Linked DNA regions of Homo sapiens: all the other regions are linked to region 1. The links come from fine-mapping of genetic effects on gene expression. A gene starts in region 1. Each other region holds a variant in brackets. All regions are shown on one strand. Distances are between the middles of the regions.

Region 1 (7,775 bases):
ACTTGTTGAAATTCATTAAAAGTAACCTGGATATTACTAAATGAGATCCAGAAGAAACTTTAAGAAATAAAGGTGTGTTTCATAAAATGTGTGTCAAGGGTAGGGGTTTGGGGGAGGGATTGCATTAGGAGAAATACCTAACGTAAATGATGGGTTGATGGGTGCAGCAAACCAACATGGCACATGTATTCCTATGTAATAAACCTGCACGTTGTGCACAGGTACCCCAGAACTTAAATAACAAACAAACAAACAAAAGTTAGAGCAAGGGTATTCTGGCCTCTTGAAGGAAAACAAAAATGTGTGTCAAAAAAAGTCTGGCTACGCTACGACTATTAAAGTACTGGGAACATAAAATTCAGAATGAAAAAGGTAATAAAAGTGGAGAAAATTAGGATCTCAAAAGGAAATATACAGCTAAAGTACTTATTCTTGGTCAGAAAGGGATTCATTGTATTTTTTAATCAAATATGCAGTTCGGTGATGAGTGTATCAGCAGCTTCACCTTCTAGCACAAAGATGAACAAATTAGCCACAGCTCTCGGGCAAGTAAATGTACCTAGAAATTCTAACCGCTACTGATAGGAAATGTGATTAAGAAAAATTTTAAACATAGAATTTCCCCTGACATAGTCAAGCTGAATGTCAGCTACAAGCGTATTACAGTATATATCTTAACTACTGGGTCTGGGGTCTTAGCTTCCCCAGCTCACCAACAGATGGTACTTGAAAGTGACTGTTGGTTGGGTCCTCTGAGAAATTCAATAAGGAAAAATGTAATCTGAGTCTGCAACCTATTTAGAGGAAAGATAACTAATACAACTGGATTAGTGGGTGAATTAATATATGTTAACAACTTGAAACAGTACTTTGTACAAACTAAACTGTCAATAAACATTAATTGTTAATTAATCGTCATAATAACAGCAGATAAATTCTATGAGGCGGAAGCCACATATGTACAAGGTGAGCACTGGTAAAGAAGAGATGAGTATGGCCAGTAATGAAGGAAGGCTTCACATGAAGGAAAACTTGAGTTGATTTCTAGAAGTAGATGAAGAGAGAGGAGAGAGGGGAAAGGAATAGCAGTAAGGAAAAGTGAAGACAGAAGGGGATTCATTTGCTCCTATGTTTGGCATACCAGTTCCTTATTCCTTCTGCATATCACTTCTTTTTTTGAATTTTATAAGAAATATATTTTTAAATTATTTTAAAATTAATATTATTTTTAATTGACAAATCATAATTGTTTACATTTATGGGGTACAGGGTAATGTTTTGGTATATGTATACAATGTGGCATGATTAAATCAAGCAACATACCTATGGTCTTGCTTACCTATCATTTTTTATGGTGAGACATTTGAAATTTACTCTTAGTTATATTGAAATATACAACATATTATTATTCACTAATCTCCTTGCTGTGCAATAGAACTCAAAACTTATTCCTCCTAACTGAAACTTCGTACCCTCTGATCAACTCCCTATTCCCTCCTTCCCCACCCTTTCTACCTTCCAGCGCCTGGAAACCACCATTCTACTCTCTATTTCTATGAATCCAACTTCTAAATTTATTTTTAAATTAAATTAAATTTTAGTTTTGAGACAGGGTCTCACTCTGTGTCCAGGCTGGAATGTAGTGGCATGAACATGGCTCACTGTAGCCTCAACTGCCTGGGCTCAAGAGATTCTCCCACCTCAGCCTCCCGAGCAGCTGGGACCACAGGTGTGCGCCATCATGCTTAACTTATTTTTTTTTGTCTGTAGAGACAGGGTCTCACTTTGTTGCCCAGGCTGGTTTTAAATTCCTGGGCTCAAGTGATCCTCCAGCCTCGGCCTCCCAAAGTGTTGGGATTATGGGCATGAGCCACAGTCCCTGCCTGGCCTGAGTCAACTTTTTCAGATGTCACACTTAAGTGAGAACATGCAGTGTTTGTTTTTCTATTCCTGGCTTATTTTGTCTAACATACGTCCTCTAGGTTCATCCATGTCACAAATGATCTTTCTTTTTAAAGGCTGAATAATATTGTGTATATATACCACATTTTCTTATCCCTTTATCCATTGATAGACACTTAGATTGATTTCGTATCTTGTGTATATAGCACATTTTCTTATCCATTCATCTGTTGATGGACACTTAGGTTGATTTCATATCTTGGCTATTGTGAGTAATGTGCAATGAACATGGGAGTGCTGCATATCACTCCTTTAAGTATAGGGCTGCTAGTATGATTGTTTGGCTATAAAAGATGTGCATGCTGACTAGTATTAGGAAGTGAGGTTGCAATGGTCTGTGTGGGTCCAGATCATGAAGGATCTTAAAATCTTGGCAGAGAAGCCTATTTTTAAGAGTAGGCCATGGAAGGCCATCATAGATTCTGGAACAGAGGAACCAGTGTACAGCATAGTGGTTCTAAGTTCATGCTGTAAAGTTAGGAGACCTGGGCTTGAATCCTGGCTGCTCTTTTATTAACTTTGTGACTCTGCCTAGCTGCTTAGCTTCTCAGAGCTTCAGTGCTTTTATCTGCAACATGGAAATAATAGCACCTGCCTCATTCTTTGTGAGAATGCATTTAAAGTATTGAGCACACTCCCTGTCACATAGTAAGCATTCTCAGTAAGTGCCAGCTACTATTATTTAGGAGGCTAAGGCTCTAGGTGATGAGGTCTACATGGGTGCAGTTACAGACGCAGGGAAATTGTGAGGAGCAAGTCATTCTAATCCTCTTAGAAGAAATGTCCATGGGGACACCCAGACTTCAACAAGACTTTGAGCCTAGTGATAATTAATGTAAGTTATGAAGTTCAAAACAGAAGTTAGACCGGGTTTCTAAGCACAAAAATTTGGCAACTTAAAATGATTTCAAAGTGGAATTATCACATCAGTATAACCTTATGATAATACATATCCCTCCTTCCTAAATTACTCATATCCTGATACCAGAACAAGAGTTTTAGAGCTCAGAAGGGTTAGTGTCTAAAATCATAGACTGAATTAGAAGTGACTTCAGTAGGCTTAGAAAATACCACTTTGTAGGAAAAAAACAACCTCTCCTCCCAAACCAATTTTACCAAAGACTGCAAAATAGATAAATATTTTAAAAGTAGAGAAGACTCAATTATAGGCTAAACTCTTTATCATACCTTGTCTGTGTGTTTAATGTGGCAATGGTCACCAAAGTCCCTTGAAGTACAGTAATATTCATTTGTGCCTCCCCCATCCCCACTCTGCTCTTGAAGTTCCAGAAGGGCAGATCCAAAATAACATTTATCCTTGTATTGCCCATCGTTATTGAACAAGTAGATACTCAATTATTTGCTGAACTAAAATGAATTTGTGAAAATGGTCATTCTAAACGAAGGGCTGTGTTGGGACTTTGAGCTTCAATGTGGTTAGGCTTATTTTCTACAAAATTATTTTCCCAACATCCAGTGAGTTTTGAATTAAGAGAATTTGTTTAAATCCTACAGTAGACTTTTCAATCAATCTAAACCATCTCCTTAACTGAATATCTAGACAGAGAGAGAGAGTGAGAGACAGAGAGAGCGCGCCACAAGATTGTCCATATAGGAGCTCCAGAAATCCGCATCCACCCAAAATGCGTCCCGGGGCAGAGAAGTTTAGGCTGCGCTCCTCCCACCTCCTTGGATGGGTCCCAGCTGAGAATACTCACTGGGCTGAGCCAAGTTTGCTCTCCCTCTTCCCGAGCACTTTCGCAGGCTTTGTGTCTTCCACATCTTGCTGTAGTTCAGTCATCGGGGCCGTGTCTGGAGGGCACCTTCAGACTTCCGCGCGCCTGGCTCTGCCCCGGCTCGTCCCGGCTTCTAGGTCCGGGTGCGCAGGCCAAGCAAGCGGCGCCGTGCCCTCCCCTGCACCCTCCGCCCAGCGCATCCAGGCCGGGCCGCGCCAAGCTCCCGGGGCCGCGGACCTGGACACGTCGGAGCGGGCGCGATTGGTCCGACCCACTGTGGAAAAGCCGAGAGGGAGGGAAGGGGAGGGTCGAAGCGAAGTGACAGCCTCTTTCCCCAACCCAGGAGGCAGAGAAGAGAAAAAGGAAACCTGTTGAACGAGTCTTTCGGGAGAGGAAGCTAATTGGCCAAGCAGGTGGAACATTTGCCTAAGAAGGCACAATCTGTTTAGCCTCCTGGTAAATTAAGCTTTTTGTTTTCTATCCCGACTGTAACAGGGGGATTTTTAGAGGGCAGCCGGCTCTAGATACCGGAAATGGAGACGTCTGAGTGGGACGCCCTGTCACACAAATGCGCTGTGTGGGCTGGCCTATGCCCCATCCTAAATTATTCAAACAGGATATTGCTTCATTGAGGGACTGCCTCTTCTGCTTAAACAATAGGTCTGCTCAATTTTTTATGTGGGAATAACAAAGGTAATAAGTAGTTGCCTTTGGTGGTGTTTTGGTTAACCCTTCATCGTTCTGGGGTGGGGGGGGTGGTTAGAGGGGCAAAGAAGAAGCAACCATCAAAATCTTCAAATATTGGGTTATGACTGTTCTCATCAAAATCAAAATTGGTGTTTGATAATTCCCAAGCCGTCTCTTTGTTGCCCATAGTTGTGCAAGTACCTTATTTACTATGCACTCAACCAGTACCGTGAATGCCTCTTCTTCCCACCTTTTGGTGACATTTTGACTTGCCTGTTCTAAGGTTTTGTATTGGAAGCATTCACTCATTCATTCATTGAACAAACTTTTGAGAGCTACAAAGTTCCAGGCATTGTTCTCAATCAGGGGTGTCCAATCTTTTGGCTTCCCTGGGTCACATTGGAAGAAGACGAACTGTCTTGGGCCACACATAAAATATACTAACACTAAGGATAGATGATGAGCTTTAAAAAAGGTCTGTGCAGGGGCCAGGCACGGTGGCTTACGCCTGTAATCCCAGCAGTTTGGGAGGCCGAGGCGGGTGGATCATTTGAGGTCAGGAGTTCGAGACTAGCATGGCCAACCTAGTGAAACCCCATCTCTACTAAAAATACAAAAATTAGCTGGGTGAGGTGGCGCAGGCGCTTGTAATCCCAGCTATTTGGGAGGCTGAGGCAGGAGAATCACTTGAGCCTGGGAGATGGAGGTTGTGGTGGGCCAAGATGCACCACTGCACTCCAGTCTGGGCAACAGAGTGAGACCCTGTCTCAAAAAAAAAAAAAAAATCCGTGCATAAATGTCACCATGTTATAAGACAGTTTATGAATTTGTATTGGGCTATATTCACAGCTGTTCTGGGCTGCAGGTTGGGCAAGCTTGTATAAACATTGACTTGTTATAGCAAATGACATTTGTATTGGTGGTTTTCTAATTTGCAATGGAGTAGTTGACAATTAGAATAATTAATATAAACGTTATTATTGGAAGCCTGACTTGACTTCAAAACAATTACAAGTGGCAACAGTAGAGCATGACATGCCTGGGAAAAAACGACTAACTATGTTCTGGGGCTGCAAGTCCTTCATTTTTCTCTTAAAATAAAGTTTAGATTTAAGAGTATTACAAAGACTATACAACCATAGTATGTACATGTATGTATGTAGTTTGTAGGGTGTATGTGTGTGTAAAACACCTAACCTTCTAAATAACTTCAAACATTTTGGAGGTGCAAGTTCTTTCCAAAGTTTTCTTATTCCTTCTCTTTTTACATATATATCATTAGGCTGAGAGAACAAAAGCATCTTTTTGTAGCCTGCTTGCTCCAAAATTGATGTTTGTGACATTTGAAAAATAAGTAAAAGAAAAAGCTTACATAAATTCCAGAAGAGTTGGCTTAGTCAGGCCTCTCTCTCTTTTTCTTTCCTGACCACTGACTGCTTTGCTATAGGAGCTGTGCTAGGTGGGATGGGGAAAACTCTGGGTGACCTGAAAGCTTGAAGGCTGTCTCCTTGGTGCCCATAGTTGCCTCTTCCTGGGGACATTCCTGATGCCTTCACCTCTAGATCCCCACCCTCCTCAGAATAGGGATAGGTTTGGAACAGAGATGAGGTTGTCAATTTCCCAAACTCTGGATGAGGACTCTCAGATCTCAGGTGCACTCCAACTTCTCATTACAGAGCTCAGATCAGACTGACTTTTCCCCGCTAAGTAATTTATTTATTGTGGTAAAATATACATAACATTACTATTTATCATTTTAATAAGTGTATAATTCAGTGGCATTCAACACTTTCACAATGTTATTTAACTATCACCACTTATCTGTACCCAAAACTTTTTTTTATCATCCTTGGCATAAACTCCCATTAAATACATTAAACAATAACTCTTTCTTTCTCACCTCCTCCCAGCCTCTGGTAGCCTCTAGTTTACTTTCTGTCTCTATAAATTTGTCTGTTTTAGGTACCTCACATTAGTGGAATCATACAATATTTTTCCTTTTGTGTCTGGCTTGTTTCACTCAGTGTAATGTTTTCAAGGTCAATCCATGTCATAGCATATATCCAAATTTCATTTTTTTTTGGCTGGATGATATTCCATTGCATGTATATACCACATTTGGGTTGCCCGTTTATCTGTTGATGGACCCTTGGGTTGTTTCTAGCTTTTGTCTATTGTGAATGATGCTGCTATGAACATGGGTGTGCAAATGTTTGTCTGAGTCCCTGATTTCATTTCTTTTGGATATATACCTAGGAGTAGACTTGCTGGGTCATATGGTAGTCTATGTTTACCCTTTTGAGAAATCATGGTCAGCCCTCTTTTAATGCATGAGTAAGGGCAAGTATTCAAAGCAGTCTTAGCATGGGCTTATGGCTCAAATAAAGAGCACTCAGTTACCCTAAAATAGCTTAAAGTTCTTTAGTGCATGGTATAAGGACTTCCAATGGTGTGGTTTTAAGTGAGAAGGAGCAGGTGAGGTTGAAGTGGAAGGCAGGGCTGGTAGGGAAAATATCAGTCTTTTCCTAGAGTGGAAGAATTAGAAAGGAGCAAGTAAGCTACAATATTTTACCTACTGATGTTTGCTTACGTTTAAAAGGCATTGTTAAACAACTGCCTAATTTGTTTATTCTTGGGGCTATTCTACAGTAATATATGGAATATAGTATTCAAGAGGCACGGCAGATAAACAATAAAGGAAATGTCATTGCCATGTGACAAAATAGAGATGTAAGATTATGCCTATGATATGTGAGAGGAGACAAGATAAAAAGATTATGCCTAAAATATGTTTTAGGATGCCCTTTGATATTGTACCAATAAGAGACATTATTTTTCTTCCTCTAAGTCTCTGGGAATCCAAATTCTTGTTTTTAAAAGCAAAGAAGATTTCTTTTCTTTTCTTTCTTTCTTTTTTTTTTTTTTTTTTTGAGAAAGAGTCTCGCTCTGTTGCCCAGGCTGGAGTGCAGTGGCACGATCTCAGCTCACTGCAACCTCTGCCTCCTGGGTTCAAGCAATTCTCCTGCCTCAGCCTCTCGAGTAGCTGGGACTACAGGCACACACCACCACGCCCAGCTAATTTTTGTATTTTTAGTGGAGACGGGGTTTCACCATATTGGCCAGGCTGGTCTCGAACTCCTGACCTGGTGATCTGCCCACCTTGGCCTCCCAAAGTGCTGGGATTACAGGCGTGAGCCACCATGCCTGGCAAAAGCAAAGAAGATTTCTAGCTGATACTTTTTCTAGTTTTTAAAACCACTTTGGTAGAAGATGCCAGACATAACACCTTTGGTGGGTGGGAGCTTCTATGCAAACAGCTTTGATGTTTGATATTGGTCAGATATTGGCCTTCCTTAACATTGAGCACATACACTGTGCATCTGTTCATAC
Region 2 (7,775 bases), 65 kb before region 1:
GTAAATGACCGTTGAATAAAGGAACTTGTAAGAATTCATAGAAGCCGGGTGCTGTGGCTTGTGCCTGTAATCCCAGCACTTTGGGAGGATGAAGTGGGCAGATCACGAGGTCAGGAGTTCCAGACCAGCCTGGCCAACATGGTGAAACTCTGTCTCTACTAAAAAATATACAAATTAGCTGGGTGTGGTGGCAGATGCCTGTAATCCCAGCTACTTGGGAGGCTGAGGCAGGAGAATTGCTTGAACCTGGAAGGTGGGGGTTGCAGTGAGCCAAGATTGCGGCACTGCACTCCAGCCTGGGTGACAGAGCAAGACTCTGTCTTGGGAAAAAAAACAAAGAAGGAAAAAAAAAAGAATTCAGAGCAAGGAATTCTCAACAACCAGCCCTGTGATGGGAGTAGAAACCTTGCAGACGAAAAGAAAGAACATATTGTTTTTTAGAGGAACAGTCTGTGATGTCCTATGGGTGTTCTCAGGTGAGTGAGGAGGAAGGGGATCTGATATGTAAGTGCCAGCAAAGGCATGCCTGCTCCTGAGCCATACAACACCACACAAAGACAGGCTTTACACATGAAACCAAGGGCCAGGGAGCTGAAGTAGCAGGATGAGTTATGTGGGTAGTAAGCAGTGGAGCAGGGATAAGAACAAAGGCCTGACTCCAACATTTATGCTCTTTCTACTATACTGTTCCACCATTAATTCCACTTCCAGAACTAAGAAAATAAGTGTTTACTTCAGTTCCCGTAAGAGACATTGCTTTCTTCCCCAACTTTCTTGCTTTGTTTCTTCCTCATGTATCCCTCAGGACCAAAGATAAATGGAAAAACAGGAGTGGGAGGTAGAAAAAGGAATAAAACAAAGAACTGACATCCCAAATCCACAAAACACACCTACGATGACACACACACAAAACCCAAAATTAAAACAAAGGAGAGAATTAAGCAATTTACAGAGGAAAACCCAAATGGCCAGTAAATATATGAGATGTTCAGCCTCAGTAATAATTAGGAAAATACAAGCAAAAACCACAATGAGATCCAGCTTCACACTATCTGACTGGTAGTGGGAAGGCTGAATGGACTAGGATGGTACCTGTGGGAAGAAACTTTGAGGAGACATTTGAAGACAGACTTCACTGGATTTGCCAACTAGTCAACCAGTGGCAGGTGGAAAGAGGGAGTTAAAAATTATTCTTAGATTTCCAATGAGGATGACTGAAAGAGCAGTGATGCCATGAACAGAAATAGGGAAGTTATAAGCAGAGAAAGATCATGAGGCTTAGACATCACCGGCCCCCGAAGGTGAGAAGAAGGAATTGCTGGTATGGAGTATAAGACCTTCAACAGCATGGAGCTGCTATTTCACCGGCAGGCTGTGCTGCGCTAGTGCCCAGCTGCCTCTGAGGAAAGGTGCAGATGAATCAAAAAGAGCACGGGTGTGGCCTGGTACCTCTTTTTTAATACTTAGATTCTTTTGAGCAATGTGTGCAACTTCTAACTTTTTAGAACATCAACACGCGCATTTTGACCCCAAATCCACTTTTTACTGAATCAGTTTCTGCTTTGAGACAAAGGTAGTCTCCACTGGTGCTCCTGTAAACCTCCCCGGCCTCCCTGCTAAGCTGTCTGAACCCTGCACAAGACCTGAGGCTGTTTGCCTGCTGTGAACAAGCTCTTCTGTTTTCAGTTCCCTGGTTACAGAATGTGGTGTCCCGGCCAGGCCCAGCGGGAGAGTGGGAAGAAACACAAAAGAAGGCGGCAGGATCCCATGTGTTTCTAATCCAAAGAATATCACTGGTATGTAAGAGTGAACAAAATTGAAAATTAATACCACTTCATTCTCTGGGTTGCATGAAAGCCAAACATTTGTAAGCATTTCATTAAAAAAAATCGTTTATCTTCAATTCTCAGAAACTAATGTTTTAGAAAGGAAGAAAGCTAACTCATACCTTCTCTAGGTTGATTCTCGATGTAAAGAACTTTCTACATTTGCCCATAAATAGAATGATTTAATATGAATTCTCTGACCTGACTTGGTTTAGAACATAAGTTTGGAAACTCCTTTGCTCTTAATACTTTAGCTGTTAAATACTAACTAACACTGAGTGTAGGAAAACAAAGATAATTTTATTCATTTGTATTTAATATGAAATTTTACTAATTTGTATTTAATATGAAGAAATATGTCTTCCCAAGTAAGCATAACTGTACTATGATGTAAAGCTACCAGATACTGGGCGTTTGTGACAGCAGTTGTAATTGAACACTGAATTCTCTCTAAGCCTTTCCTGAAGGATTAGGGTAAAAACAAAGTAGTTATCAGATAAAGGAGAAGAAAATAAGACATGTAAATCAGGTTTATTTCTGGGATATTTCTGGCATGCCTATCTTCTTCTCCAGCTCACCCTCCTGCTGCCTTCTAAGAATGCCACAGGCTAAGGACAGTTTTGCCCTAGCGTTGTTTGGACTGTAGATACTTTGAGGTAAAGGTACATCTGTGGCCTTATCAACAAAGCCTAAAGCTGAATTCTGAGGAACAGTAAAGCAGAGAGCTTCTAAGCACAACTTTGCAGTCAGACAGGCCTGGTTCAGGTTCCAGATCTGCTGACTTTATTTATGTATTTTTCTTCTAATGCTCTCTCAGCAGACTCACGTCTGCTGCCTTTCTAGGTGTGTCACCTTCAGCAA[G/C]CTAATTTGAAACTCTTGATTCTTCCCCTATCAGATAGGGAACAATGACGTCTATCTTCCATGGTTCTAATAGGACTTACATGCAATATTTTACCTATGGGAACAGTCAGCCTTGGTGGAGTTGGGGCTGTACTTTCTGGCCAAGCCAGTGGTTGGTCTCCAGTTCACTCCCTACTATGTCCCTACATTAAGCTCCGATGTCAGTAGTCACTTACCACTGGGCCCTGTGCTATTAAGTAATATGTCTAATCAAGGAGGAAGAACAAAAGACCTACAAGACTATGTATTTCAAGGAAAATGAGATTAAGACCTATTTCTTTGTGGAAATAAAAAATATTCTTCCACATTTACTATAAAAAGCCCCTAGCCAGGGTTGATCATGTAGGTTTATTGCGGCACACTAACGGCGTCTGAGTGTGTAATCCCTGACCTGACCTAGGGCAACCAACAGGCACTACTGTGACTGCCCCCATACACAGGAAAGAAATAGGTCACCTTTTCTAATTTCACTATGTTAGCTGTAAGCTCTTGACAGAGAACCTCCACATTGAATTGTACTTGTGACCTCAGGCCAGATGGTGCTGCCTGTCTGTAAGAAAAAAGAGAAAAATTATTATGGGCAGGGATGACAAGGAAAGAAGTGGAATGAACACATTTAAAATTTATTTGAACAGAAAATTGGTTTATAATAGAAGAGAATGAACATTTCATTTGTTAATATTAGACAAAGCCCTGCAGTAATCCGCAACTCCAGGCTAGATGTTTAGGGAACTAATTCTTAAAAGCTCAGCGGGAAATCTCTTAAGCTATTTTTGTTTAAGTGGATATGGTGTGTTTCGGCTTCTAAACAAAAATCAGGCAATTATTTTCAAGCACGTGGTTTCTTAGAACCCTTTTATTAACCCCTAATATCCTTTCTGTCTCCACCAGAGCATAAACTTACAAGAATTATTGTACTTTTGAGCTATTTATACTAGAACTTTACAAGTTTAGGAATGTCCTTATCTAGTTAATCAAATGTCCCTTGAAACACGAGACTTTTGTAGTTTCTTCTTTGAGATTTATCATACAACTATAATTGCCCTTGTCTCATAATCAGGCGTGAGCCACTGTGCCTGGCCTGGAGTCACTTCTTATCTCTATGCCAATATTAACTTTTTGAACAAGATGGGAGAAACTAAGGGCAGAGTATGAATCCATACCAAACTGTTTATTAGGCTTTTGTATTTTATTAGTTCAAGTGTATATTTATGGGTCAAAAATAACCTGTATGCCTGCATACATGTAAGCCACCTAAAGGTAATTCCTATGGAGTAAAGAAAGGTCCTAGAATGGTATAACACAGTATTTCTCAAAGTATAGAGCTCAGACCATTGCCATCAGCACCACCTGGGAACTTGCTGGAAATGCAAATTCTCAGGCCTCATCCCAGACCTACTATATCAGGCACTCTGGAGATGAGCCCTGAAATCTGTTTAAACAATTCTAGATAATTCTGATGCAAATTAAAATTTGAGAGCCACTGGTAGACTGAGGAGCCCATGGTCTTTGTAGTTATATAGACCTGCAGCTGAATCTGCAAACTGTAAGACATTAAACTAATTATTACTCTGAGTCTCAGTTTCTTCATCTGTAAAATGGGAACAGTTCTATTCTAAGGTTATGGTGAAAATATAATGAGGAAAAATCATCTGTATTTGTATGTGTATGTATCCATTCTAATAGAGCCTTCAGCATGTGGTGAATACTCTGTCAGGAAATATCTCTACTTCAAAAACTTGGGCTAAATGTACACTTTCTAACATGGCATAAATTATTTCACTTTTTAGGCAATGTGTCAAAAGCTTCTTGTAAATAGGTTTAAAGAAAAGAGCTCTATGTCTGAAAAGGTTTAATTAGGCCAGGCATGTTAAAAAAAAGACTGATGGAAAATCTTCACAGACACATTCAATTAATTACTAGTCACATTGATCTTGACAGTGGTCAAGAGTTTTGCAAATAAGTGAGTTAATATAAAAAGTTATACATGATAAAATGTGCTGAGTTTCTTGAATTGCTTCTTTCTCTGAGTGTCTTGATTTATTGCCATTTTACTAAGGTAAACTTGTGTAGTTTAATAAATGGGGCAAGGTCACAACTGCATCTTAGCATATTCGAGCAAGATAATGTAAAATTAGGCTTGTTTCTTGCCTTATTACTAGCAACATTACCACAACTCCAAAATAGTACAGGGTTAGGTCATTCATTTCTAGACCCTCCTACCTTTTTACTTTCCACATATACACTTAACAAAATGTCACATACAGAATGTATCTCCAATTAATGTTTACTAAGAAGGATGCTAAGTTCAGGTCAATTATTATATTAAGCAGAATGGCAAGCAGATGACAGCTAGAGGCAATCGTCTTACTCAGTATTATGGGTGTCCACAATGGAGGTTAGTAACCCCAGCTGCTCCTCCAGAGTATTAATTCTGTATCTCATGTAGAAGGTCGAGATGATTAGTGCACAGACACTGGAAACGGATGAAAGAGAAACTTTCGTTAGGTTAACGGCCAGGATCTGATGTTCATAAAACAACTCAGTGCCAATGTGGTACACCCGAGGCAAGGTATTTTCCAAAATAACTTGGTAAAAAGATTTTAAAAACATCCTTTTTAAACAGGCTGATGCTTGTTATAAAACTTACAGCTAGAAGAGACTTAAAATCCTCTAGCCCAAGTCCCTTAATTTGCAAATAATGGCCCTTCTAATAGCACTGGTCAGAGCCAGACCCAAGTTGGAGTACCAAGCCAGTGTTCCTCCTCCCTGCGGTACTACCGTCCTCTGCCAGAAGAGCCTGGGCAGATCTTAGCCATGTTCTCTGGTGACTCCCTCCTTTATCTGGAAACCAGACTGGGCATATTTTCCTTGGTTGGGAGGAACAGCCTAGAACTGGGTCAGGCTATTTTCAGAAGAACAATTGGTTACACGCTAGAAGTTAAAAAAGTCTATGCCTACATTTTTGGTAAAGGGGATGAGGACAACATTTTCAAGTTGTGTTGGCCCCTGTTCAGGGGACATGGGACAGATGGCAAAACAAAATTATAGCTAGATAGAAGGAATAGGTTCTGGTGTTGAATATCACTGTAGAATGACTAAAGTTAACAATGATAGAGTTTCAAATAGCTAAAAGAAGGATATTGAATGTTCTCAACACAAAGAGATGATAAGGGTGATGGATATGCTAATTACCCGGATCTGATCAGTATACATTATATGTATCAAAACATCACTATGTAGTCCATAAATACCTACAATGATTATATGTCAATTAAAAAAATAAGGTAAAAAAAATAACAAGGGTAAAGATGCTTCATAATTCACAGAGCAATTTCCCAACTAATGGTACCCACTCAGAACTTAGTCCTCTGCAGGGTTTGGCACAACCATGAAAATGTGACCTAAGCCTAAGGAAAAAAACCTGAAGTAGGAGACAGAAATTGTCAAAGTAAAGATGTAGGTCACATTTCAGACAATTGAGATTTACAGTAGGTCTTGGCAGTGTGAAGAGATTATTCCTTTAGCGAATGGAATCATTTTCTTAGTCACTCACAGTAAATTCATGTACTTACACAATTGCATAGAATATAAGAATATGGTGAAGCATCGGACATTTCTGAGACTTGACTTTATGTAAGATTCCAACAGTTTCTGACAGACCTGTTGGGAGGAAAACAAAAAACAACTGTTTAAAACCATAACACACTTCTTTTATCCAGCAATATCCCTATGGGGTACTTGAGAGAGGTAATTGTTCCCAGGTAAAAGAAATCAGAGAAAATATCAAGTCTCCCAGTTGTCATTTTAACCAGTGGTTACAATTCCTTCCAACACATTCCATTGATTACATACCTATCCACAGCCTTCTTTGTGTCAAGCATTGTACTGGAATCAATGATGGACAATATAACAATATCCTTGCTCCCTTACCAGTATAGCTAGTTATTAGAATAATTAGTAAATAAGAAATTTGAGTTTTACTGGAAAATTTTTTATTTTTTTGAGATAGTCTCACTCTGTTGCCCAGGTGACAGTGGCGTGATCACAGCTCATTGCAGCCTTGACCTCCTGGGCTCAAGCAATCCTCCTGCCTCAGCCTCCCAAGTAGCTGGAACTACAAACATGTACCACACCCAGCTGATTTTTAACTTTTTTGTAGAGATAGGGTCTCACTATGTTGCCCAGGCTGGTCTTGAACTCCTTGGACTCAAGCAATCCTCCCACCGCAGACTCCCAAAGTGCTGGGGTTACAGTAACAGAAATTTTTGAAAGATAATCTCATGTATTCAGAATCATGAAGTGACCTCCATGAAGGCTATTCACTTTTGTATCCCCCACTGTAAGCACGGAACTGGGTACTGTTTGCTAAAAGAATAAGTGAATTAATATGCAAAGACCTATAATACAAAGGGAGGAAAGGGAATATGAAAAGCAGTCATAAGGTGAAACCCAGTTACAAATAGGCCGGGCATGGTGGCTCAAGCCTATAATCTCAGCATTTTGGGAGGCTGAGGCGGGTGGATCACTAGAGGTCAGGAGTTCGAGACTAGCCTGACCAAAATGGTGAAACCCTGTCTCTACTAAAAATACAAAAATTAGCTAGGCATTGTGGCATGCGTCTGTAATCCCAGCTACTCAGGAGGCTGAGGTACGAGAATCGCTTGAATCCAAGAGGCAGAGGTTGCAGTGAGCCAAGATCATGTTATTGCACTACAGCAGCCTGGGTGATAGAGCAAGATGCTGTCTAAAAAAAAAAAAAAAGTTACAAACAGACATCTCCAATCCTTCTAAACCCACCCCCCTGAGACATCCATTCCTTACCCTGTACAGGGAGACTCTTGGCTTTTCCTTCAGGTACTCTGTTCACATGGGCATCTGCCCGAGTTGGCTTTGCTTCTCCCTTGGAGACATTCAGAACTGTTTGGGATTCTGTCGCATGGAAATCTACTAAGCCAAAACAGAGCTGGGTAAGTGTTCTCTCCAATGTATTTAAAAACAGGATTAATCTCCAAGTAAATCAATCCCTTAACATGCATAATGGTCAAG
Region 3 (7,775 bases), 43 kb before region 1:
CTCTATACCTATATTAGTCTTGACCAGCAGGAAGGTGCATACTTGGGTTCCTTCTTGTCACTGGCTTCAGTAGCCCTGTCACCCTCTAAGACAATACAAATTCCATTCTCAAATTACCTGGCTGGAAGATGAAGACTTTTTTCTTTCAGTCTTAGGGTCATTTTTGCTTTCTGTTTTACAGTCGTTCTTATCACTTGCTAAAGAGGCACCATCAAAACTGGATTTTGACCTAAAGAAAGAAAGTCCAGGGTGTCTATAAGATAATTTTTTTTTGAGACAGTTTTGCTCTGTTGCCCAGGCTGAAGTGCAGCAGCATGATCACGGTTCACTGCAACCTCCCCGTCCAGGACTCAAGCGATCCTCCCACCTCAGCCTCCTGAGTAGCTGGGACTACAGGTGTGTGCCACCATGCCCAGCTCATTTTTTTGTAGAGATGGGGTTTCACCACGTTGCCCAGACTGGTCTTGAACTCCCGGACTTAAGCAATCTACCTGCCTCGGCTTTCCAAAGTGCTGGGATTACAGGCATGAGTCACCACACCTGGCCTATGAGATACATTTTTCATTAATTTATTGTAATAAATCTTGATTATTATACTATCTTCTAAGAAAACCTGACATTTGTTTTTCTTTTCTGGATATCAAAAATCATTCATGATACTCTGAGAATATTTACACAGCACATGCTTTAGGACACTGCAATGATTTCATCAGGCTGTAATCAAAAACTGTAGAAATAGTAACTTACAGAGGGTGAAATAACAATCAAGTTGTGAAAATAATTACATCATTTTAAAACGAAACTATTTTAATCAGTATTTAAAAAGGAGTACTTGAGGCAAATTACTAAATAATATTGCAGCTATAGTTCAATCAAAGAATATTTTTGTTTCAGAATTCCACTAATATATAACAAGTATTAATTGAGTAGGGCATTGTATTAAATGTCTTGGGGCCCATAACACAGTTTGTATCCTTAAGGCGCCTGTGTATGCATGCATCAAACACTTTTTTAAAAAGGCAGTACATGATTTAGCACCAAAAAAAATACATATTATAGGAGTTAGGAGAAGGTATGGAGCCAATAAGTCTAACAGGAGGTAAGAGAAGAGGAAAACAGGCCGGGCACAGTGGCTCATGCCTGTAATCACAGCACTTTGGGAGGTCAAGGTGGGCGGACCACCTGAGGTCAGGAGTTTGAGACCGGCCTGGCCAACATAGCGAAATCCCATCTCTATTAAAAATACAAAAATTAGCTGGGCATGATGGTGGGCGCCTGTAGTCCCAGCTACTCGGGAGGCTGAGGCAGAAGAATCGCTTGAACCCGGGAGGCAGAGGTTGCAGTGAGCTGATATTGCACCATTGCACTCCAGCCTGGGGGACAGAGCAATATTCTGTCTCAAAAAAATAAAGTTAAATTAAAAAAAGTAAATAAATAGAAGAGGAAAACAGTAGAATAATGTGGGCTTAAAATGCTGGGCCTAACAGGATAAGCAAGAATTGGGTATGAGGAAAAGAGACAAAACATCCCAGAGTGGGAATACAATAAAAGTGAAATCAGAATAAAAAAAATGAAACCACAAAACATGTTTGAAGCCAAGTCTTCCTTTTTCCTGTTAAGCACAGAGGTCAGAGCTCCAGAGTTTCCTTCTAAGATGATTCTAGTCCTGGTTTTCCATTTTAGTGGATGTGTACATTTGTACGTAACTTCAACCCTACGGCTAAACGCAGTCATTTCAAAGTAGAATGCATAGATGATTTTTGGAGTTATATATATGAATAAGTTTTATGATTATGAAGTTGCTTTAATGTTTATTGGGAGGAAACGACACACAAAATCCATGATTTCACAATATTATTCCTTAAAATGAGGTTCAGTTAAAAAAAATTGGTTCAAAGTGGATTTAAGAACAATCTGAAGTAATTCAGGTGGTACATGGGTGTCACAGAGAAACAGAAAGGACTGAAGTTAGAGAATTATGCTCTGGTTTTCTCAGCTGTGAAAAGATGGACTATATGATGTCCTAGGCCTCTTCTAGCCACTACAGTGTATGATTCCACAATGCTGAAATCACAGGGCAAATACCCCTCAGCAGTTCAAGGTAAATGAGTTTAATTTCAGATACAGGCCATTGAAGCTATTCACAGACATAAATTCCCTGGGAATTCTAGGGATTACATTTTTTTGGAAGCTATGAAAAAACATTTGTTCTCTATTTGAAAATAAAATTATCTGTACAAATGTCAACTTGCCTTTTATTTATATTATTCACAGATTTGAATTCATCACCTCTACTGATTCCCATTAATAAATGTTAATGGAATGGGCAAGGAAATGATCCGACCTTTTGAAGATCCATGGACTGCAAGCAAATATGACGAGTAGGGTGGCTCTACCCTTGATAATTTCAAAAGGCACAAGCAATAAGGGGGTTCATCTGCATGACACTGGCCCCTGTGGACAGGGTATGTATGTATACAATATGGATTTCTTTGGGTCTTTTCAACCCTGTTATTCTCACTTCCTACAGGTGACAAGAAGCCCAGTGCAAAATGAAAATGTGGGGTCCTTTATATAAAAATTATTAATTAATTAATAAAAACAAGTAAAAATTATTAATTAATAATTTTTATATAGAGACAAAGTCTCACTCTGTTGCTGAGGCTGGAGTGGCACAATCTCGGCTTACTGCAACCTCCACTTTCTGGGTTCAAGCGATTCTTCTGCCTCAGCCTCCTGAGTGCATGCACTACCACACCCGGCTAATTTTTTATTTTTAGTAGAGATGGGGTTTCACCATGTTAGCCAGGCTGGTCTCGAACTCCTGACCTCAAGTTATCCACCCACCTCAGTCTCTCAAAGTGCTAGGATTACAGGTGTGAGCCACCGTGCCTGGCCCCCTTACATAAAAATTATTAAGCATTTCTGGATAGCAAGAGGGGAACATTAAACCAAGTGTGGGCCCTTTCCAACTGCAGGAACCGCATGCCCATGAAGTTTAGCAAGCATGCCCTGTGAGAGTGTATTATTATTACGGAAGCCTGGGGAAGTTGGAGTAAAACCAACAGTGTTTTTAAGGTGCCTGCTGTAGTCAGCCAACAGTGGTAAAAGACATGAGAAATAATGTGCCTTGTGCCTTTGTGAAGAGAAGCATTAGGTGAGGCTTTGAGGGGAAACAACTAGAGGAAAAAAAATTGTTAAAGTGAGATGCTGGCCCTTTGGGAGGCCAAGGCCGGTGGATCACCTGAGGTCAGGAGTTCAAGACCAACCTGGTCAACATGGTGAAACCCTGTCTCTGCTAAAAGTACAAAAATTAGGTGGGCATGGTGGTGCATGCCTGTAGGCCCAGCTACCAGGGTGGCTGAGGGAGGAGAATCGCTTGAACCTGGGAGGCGGAGGTTGCTGTGAGCTGAGAATGTGCCACTGCACTCCAGCCTGGATGACAGAGCGAGACTCCGACTGGAAAAAAAAAAAAGGTGAGATGCCACAAAACAGCATGCAGGAAAGATGGAGAGATAATTGGGAATTAGAGTCAGAAGAGGAAAATTTCGGGAGGAGTTAAGACTTACT[C/T]TTGGTCCTGAATGAAGCATAGATTTGGAGAGAAGATATGGGCTGGGAAGCCAGGAAGGAAGCAAAAAGCGGAGTTAATAATCTTTTAGCAAAGACCAAAAGAAGTAGAAGGTAGCAGTTCTCAAAGTTCTAATAATGGTGAAGGACCACAATGATTTCTGTACTCAGTTTAGATAAACTGCACTCACCCATCACACACTGTTGGTTTAACCGCTATCTTTTAAGTGCCCCAAAGCAACTTTAGTCTCTACCAACTTTAGTCTCTACCAAATGGTAGTTGGTGCCTCTGAGAAAGATGAGGCTACAGCTACACATCTCAAAACCACCTCTCCCCTCCGGCCCCACAACCAAACCAACCCTCCCTCTTAGTCTGTCACAGGAAACTGGTGGCCTGGTGGGTCCCCGGGATGGGGATTCTTTTCCTCGGCTTTTTTTCACGGCCCCTAGGAAAGTGAGACACCAGGTGTGCACACCCAAGGCCGGGCAGACACTCCAACCTGGCCAGCCTTCCCAGCTTTCTAAACATATGCCAGAGAGGGGTCCACCCTGGCCTCATCACTTAGCAAAATCAGCGCTTTCAGAAAGGTGCAGATGCTCTGCTGAAGGCTGGGGCAGGAGGGAGAAAAAGATGCTACCTGGGTATCAGGGAAAAATGCTCATTCTTTCTCAGGAGTATTATTTGTCTATAGTATTAATACATCCTCACTCTTAACAAAAAACCCCTGCTCCTCCTGTAACGCCTTCTCCCCAAAAGACAAAAGAGAACAAAGAGAGTCAACGGAGGACTTACCATAGGCTAATGATTTTCTTCTGGTCTGGGGAGTCCGCCTCCACAGATGGGGTAGGGGATTGGGCTGTTGGCGACCTGCAGGCTTTCTTTTTCTCCTCCACACCATTCTCAGCCTCTGAGCTGAAGAAGAAAGGAAACCGCTTCACTTTAGACATTCAGAGAGAGGTAGCTGGAAGGAAAACGATGAAGTAACATGGTTTTCTAGAGAATGGAATGATTTTCATTCCTCACTGATAGGCTAGTTAACTTTGACAGCGAGGCCCTTTCCCAATCTCCATTCTAACCCCTTGCCTGGTGTCCCAACGGCAGTAGCTGCAGGTCGCACCTGTTTCACTTGTAAATGCCAGACTGTGTGGACTTGCTGGCTCCCAGGTCTGTGCTGCCCAGCTCTGCTCTGCATGGGCTGTGCTGGGGCAGCAGATCACCTGGAGGCTGGGAGCGCCCTGCACAAGCACACACGCACATGTACACACGCTCACGTGTGGCCTCCTGCAGGTGTGAGCCTTCCTGCTGGGAACCCCCACCCCTTTTGTTTGCATTTCTCTTATGTCACTTACATGTTGTTTAACCAAGCAGTTCCCTAAGCAATTTACAGTCTCTAATCTTTACAACCACCCAGACTAGGTAGGAATTACTACCCTCATTTTACAGATGAGGAATCTGAGGCTCTTGCTATCTTGCCTAAGTTCAGAGAGCTAGCATCTATCTTACTTGAGATTCAAACTTAGTATGTCTGTCTGCAAAACCTTTGTGTTCTCTCTCTCCATTCATCCCCCCAACCACCTACTCATCCATTTATCCTCATAATTAACTCTTCAGTGTGAGAGCTCCAGGGCAGAGTGGGAATCTTACTCATCTTTGTCTTAACCACGGGGTCTAGGATAGTGTTGACTTACAGTCATGATCAATAGGCGTTGGAAAAACTAGGTCTGACCTTGGTAAAAGAGAAGGTGGAAGGGAGTAGAGGGGAAGGTGAGTCAAGAAGGTTTGTGCATAGAACCAACAAACAGAGGACAACCAGCTTGGGGGATGCAGAGGTGAGTTCCCTCAGTCGGCCGGTGAAGATCTCTTGGGAAGCAGGGGAAACCACTTCCAATGGGAAAGTGGGAAAGGAAGGGATGTTGAAGGAAGAATACAAAATGTTATTTATGGATCAGAACTTCTTTGGTGTGTCAGCTCAGTAAAACACAAACGATACTTCTGAGGATGTGAGGACTCCATGGAGACTGAGCCTAAAGAAAGACATGTTAAGATGGCATTGCTATGAGAGATTAGCTAATCTTCACTTTCATTTACCACCTATTTGGTAGTCTCACCTGCATATGACTGTGCAGGCAGGAAATGCCACTGGATAGTTTAAGCTGTGTGGTTGCTTTGCTGATCACTTTTCACAGCATATGAAAATTGCAGCCTAGGCGAGGAGTCCTATTGTAGTGTCAGAATCAAGGCCAGTATATCTGACAAGGGTATCTAACTAATAACACCCACAGATGGTTGATGCTCTTTTTTTTTTTTTTGAGATGGAGTTTCACTCTGGTTGCCCAGGCTGGAGTGCAGTGGCACGATCTCGGCTCACTGCAACCACTGCCTCCTAGAGATTCTCCTTCCTCAAGATTCTCCTGCCTCAGCCTCCCAAGTAGCTGGGATTACAGGCGCACGCCACCATGCCTGGCTAATTTTTGTATTTTTAGTAGAGACGGGGTTTTGCCATGTTGGCCAGGCTGGTCTCGAACTCCTGACCTCAGGTGATCTGCCCACCTTGGCCTCCCAAAGTGCTGGGATTACAGGCGTGAGCCACTGCACCCGGCCAAATGGTTGACGCTCTTAATTTTGTGGTAAGCATTTCTCTTTTCCTAGTAGATACATATCTGAGGACAGAGGTCCAACCTTCTATTTCTTCAATTTTTCTCCAAGTACTTAAAACAGTTACATACATTAAAAGGGCTCAGTCCATAACAGAATTGCATTATGTGACAAAGGTACATGGAAGGCTGAGGCATTGAAATATTATTAGGAAAACCCTGTTTTGGTTTAAAATAATAATTGGACTTTATTAAACTTAGCACCAAGTTTAATTTGTGGACTCAAAGAATTTTAGAATAGTTAAGAGGCCTTAAAGCACATCTCTGCCTTTTTTCGCTTCCCCCAAGACACAAACACATTATCTCTTTTCTTCAACAGATTCAGGCAGAAATCTACTTGAGAAGCCCTCTTTAAGTAGAGACTGGGTATAGAACTTCAATAATCCATCTCAACATTTATTCAGATATTTACTGGATTTTATGCAGGATCAGATGAAGACTTAGAGGGAGAGCTGGAGCTGTCCTATACAGCATCTTTGTGTACAGAGAGCCACTCTGCAAAAGGTGCTCCTGGCAGAGATAAGGTGCTTCTTGCTCTTGGCAGAAACAGCCCAGCACCAAGGTCAGAAGGCAGCAAAACTGAGGCTAGATTTCAGCTCCTCTTTGACCCTGACCCATCTTGGTCAGGCATTTGTGTGCAGTGCAGGTGACTTAAGTGCTTAACCACATAAGGTGGTCCTGTTTCGGGACCCCTAGCTTAGCACTGAAAAGATTACAGTGCATGCCTCTATATTGTCCTACTAAAACAATGTCTTTCAAGGATGGAACATACAGTGTACTCAAAGTAGCTTTTTTCTACATACTCTCCACTTCACTTCTCCTTCAACTTGTGTCTTGTCTTCAGCACTGGTTCTCTCCTTGAAGGCCCTAGCCAGGGGACACATCCTCCACACTGCTTAAAAGTCTCTATGCTGCCTGCTGATTTTATAACTCACTAGGCATCTAATTAATTAATACCTTGTACTGGTACCTTTTCTCCCAAAAATCTTAGTTATCCAGCACTAAACCAAGTTCCTTAAAGGCAGGGAATGTCTGGTTTTTTTCCACAGCACTCAGCTCAGCATTTGCTCACAGTGGTCATTTATACGTTCAATGATATGGATTAATTATGTAGTATCTCAAAGAGGAAGTGAAATTCATCTACGAGTCAATTTGATCTTAGGTTTTTGCTTAAAGATGCTACAGGCTCAAGCAAGTTAATTCCTCACACAGGCAAGATTATTCCTGCAAGCGTCCCTTACCTTGGAGGTCTTGTCAGCAGCAGACTGAAACTATGTAGAATTCAAGCAGCAGAGGCTAGCGTGTGTTTGAGTGAGCAGCGTGGGAGGGGAAATGGAATGCTTCCTCAAGGCCTTTTGGAAACTTTTAAGTTACTGTCAATGAAGCTGAACCAGGCCACTTAGTAACTTTAAAGTTACGGTCAACGAAGCTGAACAGGTTTCATTTAAATCATGAAAATAAGGAAATCAGTTTTTATTTATTTTTTAACCAGAAGACAAAGCCCTGTTACGGACTTTGACTAAAAGAGTCAACTGAAAAAACAAACCAAAAAA
Region 4 (7,775 bases), 29 kb before region 1:
TATATTATTTTGGTAAGCATTTAAACAATTTTAAAAGTTTTATTCATATCCTTGTAGCAAAGATGTGAGATACAGAGTGGATAATAAAAATCAGTGGATTTACTATCTTCAAATGTTTGAGCTGTTACTATGTGTAAAACCTAATACCAGATTTTATGTTCTCAAAGGATTTAGGCTTTATTGGGAACTTAAGTTCAGTACATAAACACAGAACAATACATGTCATAAAGGATATTGTGTCATAAAGAAGGTGTCTAAGGAATTCAGAAACCTCTTCTAATTGTAAAGAGGAGACTCAGAGAAGTTGTGTGGAAGAAATAAGCATGACACCCTTGTGTATGGGGAGGGCACTATGTCTTTTCTAGTTAAGTAGAAAAATATTATAGCTGTCAGAAATATATTTCAGTACGAGAAACTAGAAATGTAAATTATATTTCTATTTGTTATATAAAACAGTAAAAATAAAACAGTCCTTTGGATTGGAGAAATCAAAACTTTCATTACTGCATCACAGCCATTGGTGCTACCTCTCTGTCCAAAGAAACACTGTAGTTATACAATGATTATTGTGGAAGGATTGAGATTTGTGCTGGATACATACAATTTGGAGTCAGAGATGCCATAAGGTCATGAGAAACACAAGGAAAGGCAGAAGCACAATATGCAGACAAGGAAAAGTCACTCTCACAAGGAAATCCAACAGTTTGTTTTTTTTTTCTGAAGTACAGGCAGCAGGAAGAAGCAGAAATTAAGTTGTGAAGTTTGACTCCTAATGAGGGAAGGCTACTTTTAGACTTCATTTGACTGGTGGTAGGTATTAATTGAAGATTTTTAAACAGAAGGAATAAAATGACAAGATATTAAATGCCCACCTTTTATACATCATGGACCTGATGAGCTATGGGCTTCTGGAGGACTATATTCCTATTTGTACAAGAACAAGGGAGGGTGGAAGCTGGAGACAAGAGAAAACAGAAAGGCAGGTAGGGAGTGAATCTGAAGGCAAGAAGCAGACACTGCGTTGGAGGGAAAATCCAGAGACAACATTGGAATGATTAGGGAGAGCACGCAATGGAGAGGAACATCCAAGAACACCAAGGTTATCTGGGGGATGGAGAGGATGGCATTGCCACTAACAGTTACAGGGAACACAAGAGAAATTGTAGTTTGGTGGGAAGGATTTTGTAAATTTAGTTTTAGACATAATAGATGTATATTGATAGCAGGTAGAAAACTGTATCTAAAAAAACCAAAGGAGCCCCAAATAGGTCAACAATAAAAAGAATATCAGATTTTGCAGAGGAGGGGTTCCGCCAGTTTGGAAACTAATTCCACTGAGTCTCAAGCACACTGCTGTAGCAAAAATGAATACCTAAACACCAGCAGCAATAGCAGGGCTAGAGAAATGGTTTAGCAGAGGCCACCATCTGGCTCCAGTAACCTCTTTAATATGGTCTCAAAGAAGACCCCTCTGTTCTCATGAAAGTGGACAAGTCATTGTCCCATGAACAATCATGTGATTCATTCCTGCCTCTATATCTACTCCTAATTCTGTTTTCCTAAAATATTATGTCTCTTTGAAAGCCTAAGGCAACTCATATAACTCCAAAAAGCAATTAATTGTTAAGATTCTGATTTTGGAGAGACAGAAACCCAACTCAAACTAGCTTGATTTTTTAAAAAAGCAACCAAACAGCTCCCAAGGGCTTTTGTCACTGCTTTAAGACAAAGTCAACAGTGGACAGTGGGTGCAGCTGCAGTGATTTCCCTTCCACCCTTGGAACGCACAGCAATGATCTCTAGGATCTTCCTCTCCAAGATTCTGGGACATCAATGTGCGATTCATCCTCCTGAGACACGGCCTCCATTATGTCATGCCACTGCTCCAGAGTTAACAATGCCTTTCTATTGAGCACCAGATCGAGGCATCTGGACACGAGCCAAGACCCTCCAGTTTTGCAATCTCCCTCTTCTTTTCAAAAGGAATTCTCTGTTCCAGCCATGTTGGTCGTCTTACCTTGGCCGCACTTATATCATGTTCTGTCCTTCCTCTATGTGTTGATTCTCAGTTCTCTGCTCCCTCCTCTCTACACACAGGAACCCATCATACCAGATTCTGAACAAATCCAATTACATTCCCACTTTTATACTGACTTCCATCTCTTTATTATCAATAATATAAGAAATTATGCAATTAATACTTATTGCCTAGACATCTATTTGCAATACAGGAAAACAATTAGCATTTTAAAAAGGGCTTGGGCTTAAATTTTATCTCAAAACCTACCTCATGAACTCCTTCCCAAGTGTGGCTGACAAGTTTTGGAAGAGGGGGTGGGAGCAAGAGAAAAAGGCCAGTCTTTTAATTTTCCCCACTGCTGAATTGGCATTGTGTGCAAACTTATTTTTTCAAACTGATTATTAGTTAGATGAGTAATAATTTGAAACCATATGGAAACTTGAAAAGACTGTTTTCATCAAACTAACTTCACAGCAGTAGCATTTTGAGGCCAAGCACAGTTGGAAAATAACAAAGTAAATTGTAAAATGCAGCAAGGAGGTAGCAATGGACTTTTCTAGTTTCCAGCCAAGGAAGATTGATGCTGCTGATAGTGAATTCTCCTTTGTTATTTACAGCCTCAGTGCATGAATGCTATTTTGCATTGCATAATAAACTTCCTAAAAACATATACTGAATATATCTCCTCCAAACTAGACTATAACCTTTTTAGGGGCAGGGACTTTAAGCATTTTTTTGAATTTCTGTCTTCATTCCTTTTTTTTTTTTTTTTTTTCTTTTAAGATGGAGAAGATGGAGTCTTGCTCTGTTGCCCAGGCTAGAGTGCAGTGGCGTGATCTTGGCTCATTGCAACCTCCACCTCCTGGGTTCAAACAATTCTCCTGCCTCAGCCTCCTAAGTAGCTGGGATTACAGGCATGTGCCATCATGCCCAGTTAATTTTTGTATTTTTAATAGAGACAGAATTTCACCATGTTGGCCAGGCTGGTCTTGAACTCCTGACCTCAGGTGATCTGCCCACCTTGGCCTCATATCTTCGTTCCTTTTTGGGGCTCTTCTCCACCAGCAATTGGATGTCACAATGAGCCACTTTTCATATACCTAAGATATATTAGAGGATATCTATTTGATTAAGGTTTTTTGTTCTGAAGACTGTGTTTAGGAAAGAACTAGTTTTTAACTAGAATGAAAAGCTTACCCAAACAAAAAGATAGAAATGCAAAAGAATAGGGCATAAAGTCCAGAAAAACATACTTAGAGAAACTGAAATTTTTCATTACTTAGTGAGGTCTATCATAAAGGAAACCAATTTGGAACCTCATGTTAAAGGAACAGAAGATCAAAGAGAGAACAAAACTGTGAGGATGAGAACTTCAGGCAAGAGTCATAAAAGGTTCTACTACTAGTATACAAAGGAGGAGAAAGGAAAGAACTGACTTATATATCAGGAATGCCAAGGAGAAGTGGTGTCTGTAGTATGAGAACTGCCAGGAGAGTAGAATGATAAGGAATAGAGTGGCTGAGGGGCTAGACTTACTGATGGACGGATAAGGGTGCTTCTGAATTTAGGGAATAAAAGGCCCTGCCATGGTTTCCTGAGATGTGACAGTTTATGAACCTGATACTCAGGAGAAAAGTATTGTCTATTTTTTGATAGATGGGTATTGCAAGAGAGTAATGTCAGGGAAACCAGGTGCTATGGTCTGAATGTTTGTGTCCACCAAACATTTACATGTTGAAATTCTAACCCCCGAGGTGAAGGCATTAGGATGTGGGGCTTTTGGGAGGTGATTAGATTATGAGGGTAGAGCCCTCATGAATGGGATTAATGCCCTTGTAGGGAGCTCATTAGTCCCTTCCACCACATGAGGATCCAACAAAATACAGCCATCCATGAAACAGCAAATGTGCCCTCACCAGACACTGAATTTGTTGATGACTTGATCTTGAACTTCCAGCCTCCAAAAC[C/T]ATGAGAAATAAATTTCTGTTGTTTACAAGAATGTCAGTCCATTTGCATTGCTATAGAGATATACCCAAGACTGGGTAATTTATAAAGAAAAGAGGTTTAATTGGTTCACAGTTCTGCAGGCTGTCTAGGAAGCATAGTGCCGGCATCTGCTTCTGGTCAGGGCCTCAGGGAGCTTACAATCGTGGTGGAAGGCGAAGGGGGAGCAGGCACATCCCATGGTGAGAGTGGGAGCAAGAGAGAGAGAAGGGGAAGTCCAAGACTCTTTCAAAAAACCAGATCTCATATTAACTAACTGAGTGAGAATTCACTTATCACCAAGGGGATGGTGCAAACCCATTTGTGAAGGATCCACTGCTGCGATCCAATCATCTTCTACCAGGTCCCGCCTCTGACACTGGGAATCACACTGGAACATGAGATTTGGAGGGGACAAATATCCAAACCATATCATTCTGCCGCTGGCCCCCCACATCTCGTCCTCACATTGCAAAATACAATCATACTTTCCCCAAAGTCCCCAAAAGTCTTAACTTGTTCCAGCATCAAGTCTAAAGTCCTAAGTCTCGTAAGAGACTCATCTCCTACCACTAATGAGCCTGTAAAATAAAAAAAGTTATTTACTTCCAAGATACAATGGTGGTACAGGCACTGGATAAACATTCCCATTCCAGAAAGGAGAAGTCGGCCAAAAGAAAGGGGAAGCAGGCCCCACACAGGTCTGAAACCCAGCAAGGCAGTCATTAAGTCTTAAAGCTCCAAAACAATCTCTTTTGAGATTGTTTACACCATGCTTCCTGTATAGCCTGCAGAACTGTGAACCAATTAAACCTCTTTTCTTTATAAATCACCCAGTGTCAGGTATTCTTTTATAGCAATGCAAATGGACTAACATACTTGTAAACAACAGAAATTTATTTCTCATGGTTTTGGAGGCTGGAAGTTCAAGATCAAGTTATGGAGCTCACTGGTGCAAGGAGTGGGCTCCCAAGGCCTCGGACAGTTCTGCCTCTGTGGCTTTGCAGGGTGCAGCCTCGCTGGCTGCTCTCACGGGTTGGAGTTGAATGCCTGTGGGTTTTCCAGATGTAGGGTGCAAGCTGCCAGAGGCTCTACCATTCTGGGGTCTGGAGGACAGTGGCCCCCTTCCTACAGTTCCACTAGGCAGTGCCCTGTTGGGCACTCTGTGTGGGGGCACAACCCCATATTTCCCCTCAGCACTGCCCTAGTAGAGTTTTTGTGTTGGCTACGCCGCGCGACAGGCTTCTGCCTGGGTATGTAGGCTTTCTGAAATATCCTCTGAAATCTAGGTGGAAGTTGTCAAGACTTCTTCACTCTTGCATTCTGTGTGTCTGCAGGATTAGCACCCCATGGAAGCCACCAAGGCTTACAGCTTGCACCCTATGGAGTGGCAGCCCGAGCTGTACCTGGGCCCCTTTGAGCTGACGCTAGAGCCAGACTGGCCGGGACAGAGTGAGCAACATTTTTTTTTTTTTTTTTTTTTTTTTTAACAGCAGGCTGGATGGACTGTCACTGGTTTTAGAGGTTATCTTCTAGGACAGAGAATGAATGAAGGCCAGGTGACGGGTGAGAAAGGAAATGGGAGGAGTCAGAAATGATAACCCAGAGTGAGGCATTGCTAGTAAACTTCACAGCAGAATGTTTCATTACGTTAATACAAATTCCCCTTGAATTACACTTCAAATCTCTTGTCTGACCTTACAAAAATTATGTTTATGCTGATATGCTAATAAATTTTATCCAGAGAGAGAGAGAGAATATATTATGCTAGAAATACATGTATTTGGTCAGAAGAGAATTTTTTACCTGTTAATAGTGCAATAACCTTTTAGGTTAAAACAGACAAAAACCAGGGCCATTAGAAGCCGACTTAGAAGAGAGAAATGTTCACTTTTGTTTTGAGGCACCCCTCTCCACCCCCGTGGAGACGAGCTGTACTACTCTGGCCCTCAGCTAAGCCCCTGAAAGAAGAGCTGCCTCTTACCACTCTGGCATCTACGATAACTACAGCTCTTTCTTTCCTCCTATACCCTTCATTTCCTGTAACTCTGTCTTCTGTTTCATGTAGGAGGAAAAAAAAAAAGAGATCAAAAGCCAGAGAGAGCTTAAAAGACCAAGTACATGGGCATTGTAGCAGAGTTAAAAGTTACTACGGGAGTCCAAAATAGTTCCAGAAACCTGTCGCTTTGTTTCTCCCTCACTCAAACTCTGCATTGCTACTTCCTCAGTCTCCTGTGTTCTGATCTTACAGTGCAGAGCCACACACATATGAGGACAGAGTAGGGTGTTCACAGGATGTGACACACAGGACTCTCCCAGAGGCCAGGTTTCGGTCTCATGCCATATCCCACCAAGTGAATCAACACGGGCATCAGCAGCACACGTGAAAATTCTCTTTGCTTAAATGCCAAGTATTATTACAGCTCAGGATTCTTTTTCTAAAAAAAATTAATGGGACTCAACTTCTAGAGAAGAAAGACACTGTCACTTTAAAAAAGTGGAATATATCTATATATTGGTGAAAGCAGTTTTATGTAAAAGGCTTTGATTTAACCAAAACACCCTCATATTAGACATACGTAAGGAAAAAGAAGCTCATGATATCCCATGGCGAAAAATAAGAGAGTATAGTTTTAGTATTTCAGATTGTGAGGTTTCAAAGGTGTTAATCTACCTAAGGATGTAAATGTCTCTTATCTGTATTTGGCTTTCCTTAGAAGTTATCCATGTGGTTTGTCATGTTAGTGTCAACAATATAGAATTATTCCATATTGTTATTATGTAAAAATATACATGATTTTAATTACAACTATCAAGATATGGAATAATTGTGGAACTAGTGATAGCTCCTCACTGCTGTTAAAATGTTTACCCCAATATTTTAAATATAACTAACTTTTACGGGATAGAAGAATTAGATTGAATATAATTTGTACATGACAGTACCACTTTCAAGGAAATAAGCAGTGGATCTAAAAGATTTTAATTTTATATTTGACATCTTTATTTACTGTCCTTAATTTCTCCCACCACAAATATGCATTTTCTCTATCTGGACTTGAAACGCATCGCTTTGGAAAACACATCTCTGCCTCTTCCCTCTTCCTTGCCACTCCTTTCTACTGGATTTCCCGGATGACTTTATATTTGCATGGTGCTTTGCCGTTCAAAAAGCATTCATACCCGTGACACCATGATACCACACTAACCCTCATGCAGGCATGAAAGACAGGTGTGTTAGACAGGTGTTTGAGGCCGGCATGTAAGACAGGTGTTATCCACATTTCACAAATAAGGAAACAAAGATGAGTTCGCTGAGGGCCCACACAACTCCAATCTTAGTGACTGAAGCCTCTATTACTCTCATACTATGACTAGCCTTCTCTTTCCAAGCCCGGTCAGACACCAAGACCTGTAGACTTTACCTCCTTAATATTTTCCAGTTAAGTCCCCTCTTTTTCTTTCCCTAATTTGGTTGGCTTAGCTAGGGTCCTTAATGCCTCCTGCCTGGACCACTATACCTCCCTACCTCATTTGAGTTATATGTGACCCCTCCTCCTTCCATCTATATGGAAGATCACTGTGCTCTGTGATCTTTGTAAAGCCCAAATATGATCATATCATTCCTTCTCCTCCTTTAAAACCCCTTTGGTTCTCTGTTGCCTACAGGATAAAGCTGAAGATGAGTACAGAAAACAGGTCCTCTGCAATGTGAAGCCTCCCTTTCTGGCTTTGAACCTCTTGTCATGCTGCCCCCAAGCACCCTCCTCCT

Evidence for each region. PIP is the estimated chance that this variant, and not a neighbour inherited with it, causes the effect.
Region 2: its variant is fine-mapped to the expression of GRAMD2B in whole blood (TOPMed, PIP 0.97).
Region 3: its variant is fine-mapped to the expression of GRAMD2B in atrial appendage (GTEx, PIP above 0.99).
Region 4: its variant is fine-mapped to the expression of GRAMD2B in substantia nigra (GTEx, PIP above 0.99).

Annotation. Positions count from the first base shown.
Region 1 is chr5:126,419,595-126,427,369 of GRCh38, reverse strand. GRAMD2B (GRAM domain containing 2B) reads right to left here and starts at 3,961. Exons shown (of 14, transcript NM_023927.4): 1 at 3,681-3,961. The coding sequence starts at 3,763. RefSeq lists a silencer at 3,857-3,986.
Region 2 is chr5:126,484,300-126,492,074 of GRCh38, reverse strand. GRAMD2B (GRAM domain containing 2B) reads right to left here. Exons shown (of 14, transcript NM_023927.4): 10 at 7,551-7,673; 11 at 6,302-6,389; 12 at 5,098-5,202; 13 at 3,183-3,276. Among named protein-coding and RNA genes, the nearest start is that of GRAMD2B, 65 kb to the right of the region's middle. The variant G/C (reference allele first, on the strand shown) is at 2,688.
Region 3 is chr5:126,462,131-126,469,905 of GRCh38, reverse strand. It overlaps GRAMD2B (GRAM domain containing 2B), which reads right to left. Exons shown (of 14, transcript NM_023927.4): 2 at 4,361-4,480; 3 at 118-229. Among named protein-coding and RNA genes, the nearest start is that of GRAMD2B, 43 kb to the right of the region's middle. The variant C/T (reference allele first, on the strand shown) is at 3,571.
Region 4 is chr5:126,448,369-126,456,143 of GRCh38, reverse strand. The region is part of intron 1 of GRAMD2B (GRAM domain containing 2B); the gene reads right to left. Among named protein-coding and RNA genes, the nearest start is that of GRAMD2B, 29 kb to the right of the region's middle. The variant C/T (reference allele first, on the strand shown) is at 3,988.